2 linked regions of the Homo sapiens genome follow. The protein of the gene in region 1 interacts with the protein of each later gene in a pairwise test. Each region holds a gene or a part of one and is shown in the gene's direction. Other genes may lie near its edges. The genes, in order: CXCR2 and SLC18A2.

Region 1 (3,809 bases):
ACATGGTAGAGTATACGATGCTATAGCCTACTACACACATGGGCTATATGGTAGAGTACTGCTCCTAGGCTACAAACCTACTCAGCATGTTACTGTACTAAATACTGTAGGTAATTATAACACAATGGTATTCTTATATATAAACATAGGAAAAGAACACTAAAAATACAGTATTATAATCTTATGGGACCACTGTGGTATTTGTGATGTGTCATTGACCAAAAAGTCTTTCAGTTGCTCATGACTGTTCCTCAATTTGTCTGTCCGTTCATCAGTTGATGGATATTTGGTTTGTTTCCACTTTTTGGCCTTAATGATGAATGCTACTATGAACATTAGCTTTCAATTCTCTTGGGTGTATACCTAGGTTGGGGTTTGCTGGTTCATGTGGTAACTCTATGTTTAACTTTTTTGAGCAACTGCTAAGCTGTTTTCCAAAGCAGCTGCACCATCTTACATTCCCACCTGCAATGTGGGAGAGTTCTGACTTTTCCACTTCCTCACCCACATTGTTCTTGGGCATCTTTTTCTGAGTGTGCCCAGCCTGGTGAGTGTGAAGTGGGTTCTGGGACCTTTAACTTCCTGGTTTTTCTCTCACACTGGGTTCCATTTTGGGGGTAGATTACGGACTTGGACATGGTTGGTGGTAGGGTGGTCATCCCTTACTCTAAGGCAATGGCCGGAGGGTGATCTATTTTGTGGTTCAGAAAGAAGCTAATTAGGGAGCTGGATTGCTTTAGTTGACTGCTTTGAGAAACTGGGATTTTTTTTTTTTTTTTTTTTTTTTTTTGAGGCAGAGTCTCGCTCTGTTGCCCAGGCTGGAGTGCAGTGATGTGATTTCGGCTCACTGCAACCTCCACCTCCTGGGTTCAAGCAATTCTTGTGCCTCAGCCTCCCAAGTAGCTGGGATTACAGGTGCACGTCACCATACCTGGCTAATTTTTGTATTATTAGTAGAGACAGTGTTTCACCATGTTAGCCAGGCTGCTCTCAAACTCCTGACCTCAAGTGATCTGCCACCTCAGCCTCCCAAAGTGCTGGGATTACAGGTGTGAGCCACCACTGGGATAATATTTTTGAATAACTGCAGCCCACCCTCCACACCCAGGCTTCCCCAGAGCAGGATCTGTGCTGTCCCTGTGGCAAGGGCAGAGCCCCAGGAGCTAGACTAAATCTGAGAGGAACAGGGGAGTCAAGGCTAGATGGAGGCACACACATGCAGGACAGGAAGGGTCTCCAGCAGGGCTGGAAAGCCACCAAGCAAGGGTAGTGCAAACCCTGTCTTCTCTGCTTCCTGCTGCCCCTCTCTTATTGGGTAGCAGACTGGCTGTGTCTGCTTATCCCGCATGGTGGCACATGGCTGCCCAGAGCTCCCCAAATAACCTGTTACGTTTCCACCCACAGGGAGAATCAGGCAGCCCGCTTGCTTATTGTTTTTAATATACTTTTCCAAACTACACAGACATTCCCAAAGCGGGTCTCCTTCTACCCAAAAGAGAAACGCTGGGCCTTACTAATTAACTGAAGACTCTGCTAGCTCGAGCCTTCCAAAACTCCATGCCACAATTGTTCAAACCATTTTCCAGAATACATCTTTTAAAATAACTTTTAGAAAATTGAACAAAGGGATTCATGTCTCAGCTTTATAGTCAAACCATGATCTTTTCTGAGGGTATAGCCCATTTGGAGTTCCTGCTTAATCCCCTGATTAAAAACTGAATGGGGCTGAGTGCAGTGGCTCATGCCTATATTCCCAGCACTTTGGGAGACAGAGGCAGGAGAATTACTTAAGGTCAGGAGTTTAAGACCATCCTGAGCAACATAACAAGTCCCCATCTCTAAGACAAAAAAAAAAGAACTGAGTGACATCTCACATCTCACATTTCTGAACATTAAACCCAGCCTTGATAGCCAAAGATGCTCGCCACTGAAGGATCCAGGTAGTATTGAGGGTTCTGTGGGGATTATCCAAAGAGAACTTTCTACAAAGTTTTAGGTGATGGCGATGCTAAAAGAAATGCTAAGAATTTCTCTCTTATATTAAAGAGAACTATGGTCCTCTCATAAAATGTACCATTTATCACCAAATTTATCTCATAACCTAAGAGCTACCACTTACAAATTTGAAGGGAAAAATTACTACATTGTAATACTCAAGCCAACACAAAGAATCCTATCCCAGTTTCTTGAGTGGATGGGCAAGAATATGGGGAATTTATTATGCAGTAACCTTCATCTCTCTTCTATAGGTCAGGATTTAAGTTTACCTCAAAAATGGAAGATTTTAACATGGAGAGTGACAGCTTTGAAGATTTCTGGAAAGGTGAAGATCTTAGTAATTACAGTTACAGCTCTACCCTGCCCCCTTTTCTACTAGATGCCGCCCCATGTGAACCAGAATCCCTGGAAATCAACAAGTATTTTGTGGTCATTATCTATGCCCTGGTATTCCTGCTGAGCCTGCTGGGAAACTCCCTCGTGATGCTGGTCATCTTATACAGCAGGGTCGGCCGCTCCGTCACTGATGTCTACCTGCTGAACCTAGCCTTGGCCGACCTACTCTTTGCCCTGACCTTGCCCATCTGGGCCGCCTCCAAGGTGAATGGCTGGATTTTTGGCACATTCCTGTGCAAGGTGGTCTCACTCCTGAAGGAAGTCAACTTCTATAGTGGCATCCTGCTACTGGCCTGCATCAGTGTGGACCGTTACCTGGCCATTGTCCATGCCACACGCACACTGACCCAGAAGCGCTACTTGGTCAAATTCATATGTCTCAGCATCTGGGGTCTGTCCTTGCTCCTGGCCCTGCCTGTCTTACTTTTCCGAAGGACCGTCTACTCATCCAATGTTAGCCCAGCCTGCTATGAGGACATGGGCAACAATACAGCAAACTGGCGGATGCTGTTACGGATCCTGCCCCAGTCCTTTGGCTTCATCGTGCCACTGCTGATCATGCTGTTCTGCTACGGATTCACCCTGCGTACGCTGTTTAAGGCCCACATGGGGCAGAAGCACCGGGCCATGCGGGTCATCTTTGCTGTCGTCCTCATCTTCCTGCTCTGCTGGCTGCCCTACAACCTGGTCCTGCTGGCAGACACCCTCATGAGGACCCAGGTGATCCAGGAGACCTGTGAGCGCCGCAATCACATCGACCGGGCTCTGGATGCCACCGAGATTCTGGGCATCCTTCACAGCTGCCTCAACCCCCTCATCTACGCCTTCATTGGCCAGAAGTTTCGCCATGGACTCCTCAAGATTCTAGCTATACATGGCTTGATCAGCAAGGACTCCCTGCCCAAAGACAGCAGGCCTTCCTTTGTTGGCTCTTCTTCAGGGCACACTTCCACTACTCTCTAAGACCTCCTGCCTAAGTGCAGCCCCGTGGGGTTCCTCCCTTCTCTTCACAGTCACATTCCAAGCCTCATGTCCACTGGTTCTTCTTGGTCTCAGTGTCAATGCAGCCCCCATTGTGGTCACAGGAAGTAGAGGAGGCCACGTTCTTACTAGTTTCCCTTGCATGGTTTAGAAAGCTTGCCCTGGTGCCTCACCCCTTGCCATAATTACTATGTCATTTGCTGGAGCTCTGCCCATCCTGCCCCTGAGCCCATGGCACTCTATGTTCTAAGAAGTGAAAATCTACACTCCAGTGAGACAGCTCTGCATACTCATTAGGATGGCTAGTATCAAAAGAAAGAAAATCAGGCTGGCCAACGGGGTGAAACCCTGTCTCTACTAAAAATACAAAAAAAAAAAAAAATTAGCCGGGCGTGGTGGTGAGTGCCTGTAATCACAGCTACTTGGGAGGCTGA
Region 2 (4,454 bases), on another chromosome or scaffold:
AGATGGCGAAACTAAGCCACAAAGAGGATACATAACCAGCCCAAGGCCACCAGTCAAGGAAGTAGCAGACTGGGACCTGGGCATCCTGGCAGGCACCCTTTACCATAATGCCTCTCTGTCCCCATGTGGTCCCTGGGGTAGAGTCTGCATCCTTGGGTTCTGAAACTCCAGAGCAAGCACTCTGGGGCACTCCCTGAGTGATACCCTCCTGCCATCTTAAACGGCTCTCTGCCATCTGCTTCCTCCTCCTAAGTGGTTTTCCTTCTGTCCTCCCTGTTTAATGTTTAAGTTGTGCACATCCTGTGACATCCTGGAGACCCATGTTCCTGACCTACTTACCTATTCAACCATCTCTTCTCACACATGGGGTAGCAATGAGAAGCACAGGGGGTCTCTGCAAGGGAGTAGGGAGGTGGAGAGAGCGGGGGCAGCCACACATCACACTGCTGTTCTCAGTGGCCTCCTGCTGTCAACAAGCTAACATTAATAAAACAAGCCCACTCTTCTGCTAAGAGACTGTGACAGGGTAACATTTATTCTAGGTAGCTTTTCAAGAAAACAGCTCTTGCTCCCACGGTCCCCTCGGAGGGCCTGCAGAGCTCCAGCGATGTCAGAGGGCATCTGTTTGTTTCTCCTTTGCTTATAAAAGGGACCTGGAAATCAAAGGCAGGCTCTTAGCCCTTAGCAGTGAGGATGACAGCTCTGCACCAGCCACACGCAGGCCCCTGGCTCTAGGAACCACCTCTCACCCAGACGCCCAGGCACAGCATGGTGGGGAGAGAGTACAGGACACAGGGCCTAGGCCTGCTGCCCCGCCCACAGCCCGCCCCCTAGCCCTTTCTCTGAGGCCAGGTGTACTCACCTAGCCTCCAGGGTCCCCTGCTCAGGTGGCCCCAGAGGCCCAAACCCACTGCTCCCACTTTCTGAGACCTGGGACCCTCACCTCCCCAACTCCCACCATAGGGCGACACTGAAAAGTGTCCCCTTCCCCCCCCCGTTTCCAAGTCACCAGCTTGAGGATGCCCAAGGCTCAAAGGCTCCTCCGAGTGGCACCCCGCATCGGGCTGCAGAGGTCGGAGAGGGGAGGGGATGGTGGGTGCAAAGGGTGGCTTCTTCAGGAAAGGGAAGCCTGTCCCTGGCTCCCAGCACCTGTCACCCCTGGCGATCTCACCCCGCGGCCATCATTCCCGTCCTCACGGCCCATTTCAGGGACACTGAGGCTCAAAGAGCCACGTGATTTATTCAAAGCAGCTCGAGCCACCACTTGGAGCCACAAGAAAGCCCTGGTCCGTGCCTCCTCGCCTTGGTCCCTGGCCCTTCACTCTTCGTCCAGGCTCTCTGACCTCTTTCCCTCTGCGCCCCTGCCTCTTCCCCAGGCCTGGGTCCCCAAGGCACTCGGCCACGCGCTGGGTCCGGGGAAGAGGCGCGGCCGCGGCCGAGGCGGGGACAGGGAGGCGGCAGCCCCTCCTGCGCAGCGACGGCGCGGGCGGGCGGAGGCCGGGGCGCCCCAGCCCCCCGCCCCCGCTCCCTCCGGCCGTGACGTCAGAGCCGGACGGGGTAAACTGAGCGGCGGCGGCGGGGCGCTGGGGCGGAGACTGCGACCCGGAGCCGCCCGGACTGACGGAGCCCACTGCGGTGCGGGCGTTGGCGCGGGCACGGAGGACCCGGGCAGGCATCGCAAGCGACCCCGAGGTAACACGGCCCCGGTTCCCTGCTCGCAGGGCGCGGTGCCGGAGGGGAGCGGGCCCGGGGGAGGCAGGGAGGCAGGGAGGCCCCCAGAGCTACGCGGGCGGGGCTGCGGGGACCCCGGGGCAGCCGGGGCGCAGGGCGCAGGGCGCAAGGTGCACGGGGCCGAGCGTGCAGTTTGGGAGGTGGCACAGTTGGGGGCGGCGGGGATCAGGGCAGCGTCCTGGGGGTTCTAGGTTGGGTCTCCAGATTGGGTCCCCGACGGCGCTCGCGGGCGCTCTTTCCAGGGAGCGCGGGCTCTCGTGGGGACGCGCTCGAGGCAGGTGAGCCGAGGCTGGGGCGCCCGGGGGTGTCCCCGGATGCCGGTGCGCGCGGCTCCCTGACCCGCCCTTCCGCGGCCTGGGGGACGGGAGAATGGGGGGTCCACGGCCGCCTTGGGTCCTCACCGCGCACCGCGCCCGCAGCGGAGCCCCGGAGCCATGGCCCTGAGCGAGCTGGCGCTGGTCCGCTGGCTGCAGGAGAGCCGCCGCTCGCGGAAGCTCATCCTGTTCATCGTGTTCCTGGCGCTGCTGCTGGACAACATGCTGCTCACTGTCGTGGGTACGTGCGGACAGGGCACCCCTGCCCCGGCACCCCAGCCCCAGCGCCCCTTCCCCGGCACTCCACTTACCCCTGCGCGGTCCCGGAGCTCCGCCAAGGCCCGGGAAAGTTGGAGAACTCGCTTTGCAAAAAAGACATCCCCTCCAGGCTGCCGCGCCGGGGCTAGGAGGAGCCGCGTTGTGTGGCTTCGCTTTCCTGATGCTCGGGTCAAAAACTGTGACATCCGATAAGACCCAGAACTTATGTTTCCCCCTGATAATTTCCCGCATCCTCTTGCCTGCTTTCACTGCGATGAAAAAGATTTCTGTTCCAAAAGAGAAATTCCTAAAGTTCAAAATTACGTGTTAGAATAATTATTGGGCTACTCGAAAAGGCAGGTTAGTAATTTGGTGTAGTACCTAAAAGAGCAAGTTTCGATCCCTTACTCCAAAAACAAGACATTTAGATATACTGTATTAGTGAATGACTTGAGATGGAAATATTTCAGGAACCATTGCAAGAACAATTTGAACAATCTTGGTTCTATTATTTTTCCTATAGTGGAATTTTGAAAAATTAAATAATCGAAATCCAGGTCCCTTAATTAGGCCCATTAACAGAGAAGTATTTGGCATGCATTTCCTTAAAAAAAAAAATCCCAGTTTTTAATGAATGAAAAAAAAATCACGACTCATTTAGACTGTAAGTGGTGGGAGCTGTTTCCTTTCTCTCCATTTGCAGGTTTTCTCACAGCAGTTTTCAGAGCATCTGATAGGTTTCATCTCGAGGAGTTATCAGAGCCGTGGAGCTCATCCCTGTTCAGTACCAACGGCATTAGTTCTGCTTCGGCTCGAATGCTCCATTGGACACATGTGCTCACAGCTTCGATTATATGTTTCACAATTTAATTTGTATTTTTTGTTGTTGCTTTTTATTTTGGTTTTTGTTTGTTTTTTTGAAATGGAGTCTCACTCTGTTGCCCAGGCTGGAGGGCAGTGGCACAGTCTTGGCTCACTGCAACCTCCACCTCCCGGGTTCAAGTGATTCTCCTGCATTAGCCTCCCGAGTAGCTGGGTTACCGGCATGCCCCACCAAAGCTGGCTAATTTTTGTATTTTTATTAGAGACAGGATTTTGCCATGTTGGCCAGGCTGGTCTTGAACTCCTGACCTCAGGTGATCTACCCGCCTCGACCTCCCAAAATGCTGGGATTACAGGCCTGAGCCACCGTGCCTGGCCTGTTTCAGTTTTGCTTTTTCCTTGTGAAAGCCTTAGGAATTCTTAAATCTTACAAGTTGTAGGAAAAATTACAGATTCCCACTCATAATAGAAGGATGAAGTGGGCCTGTTGCAGAATTTCCAAGTTATTACTTCCTGCAGGTTAATTTTTTTCTAAGACACATAATGAAGTGTAGTTTTCTGTTTCCTTGATTCATTCATTTGAAAGTCTTTTGAGCCTCTCTTTCTTAGAAGCACTGGTTGACTCCAGGTCAGCACTCTCTTAACGTCAGGCCACATTTTGCTTTTCTGAAATATTCCTTGAAGGAACAATGTGGAAGAAACCCACAAATGACAGAATCTCTGGGACCAGTCAGTTCAGCACAGCAGCTGCCTTTTGAGAGGAGACAGTTCTCAGGGCCGTTGGGGGCATGGTTCTTTCTAGTGAGCTAAGTAAAGTGAACTTGCTCCAATGTCGTTATAGACATATGGCACAGGGCTCCTGTTTTGGGGTAGACCTGTCACCCTCTGGACCTCTTCTGGCATTTGACACAACCATAGTTTTGTTGTTGTTATTGTTGTTTTGTTTGTTTGAGACAGAGTCTCACTCTGTCACCCAGGCTGGAGTGCAGTGGTGCAATCTTTGCTCACTGCAACTTCCACCTCCCAGGTTCAAGCGATCCTCCTTTCTCAGCCTCCAAAGGAGCTGGGATTACAGGTGGGTGCCACCACGCCCAGCTAATTTTTGTATTTTTAGTAGAGAGAGGGTTTCTCCATGTTGGCCAGCCTGGTCTCGAACTCCTGACCTCAGGTGATCCACCTGCCTCAGCTTCCCAAAGTCCTGGAATTACAGGTGTGAGCCACTGCTCCCTGCCGACACAACCATAGTTTTTTGCTGGCTTTTTTCCTGGAGAGGGTTTCAGTGTGATCACCACCTTGCCATTCTGCTCTTATCCCCAGTCCCCATCATCC

What was found.
Region 2: the proteins of CXCR2 (region 1) and SLC18A2 interact in binary tests that used the Homo sapiens proteins (3 or more experiments, as listed by UniProt).

Annotation. Positions count from the first base shown.
Region 1 is NC_000002.12:218,132,528-218,136,336, forward strand, and holds part of CXCR2 (C-X-C chemokine receptor type 2), read left to right. Parts: intron 1-2,249; 5' UTR 2,250-2,274; coding exon 2,275-3,357; 3' UTR 3,358-3,809. UniProt on the Homo sapiens protein: Receptor for interleukin-8 which is a powerful neutrophil chemotactic factor. Binding of IL-8 to the receptor causes activation of neutrophils. This response is mediated via a G-protein that activates a phosphatidylinositol-calcium second messenger system.
Region 2 is NC_000010.11:117,239,529-117,243,982, forward strand, and holds the start of SLC18A2 (synaptic vesicular amine transporter), read left to right. Parts: upstream 1-1,585; 5' UTR 1,586-1,692; intron 1,693-2,132; exon of another isoform or gene 2,133-2,150; 5' UTR 2,151-2,165; coding exon 2,166-2,286; intron 2,287-2,356; exon of another isoform or gene 2,357-2,469; intron 2,470-4,442; coding exon 4,443-4,454. UniProt on the Homo sapiens protein: Electrogenic antiporter that exchanges one cationic monoamine with two intravesicular protons across the membrane of secretory and synaptic vesicles.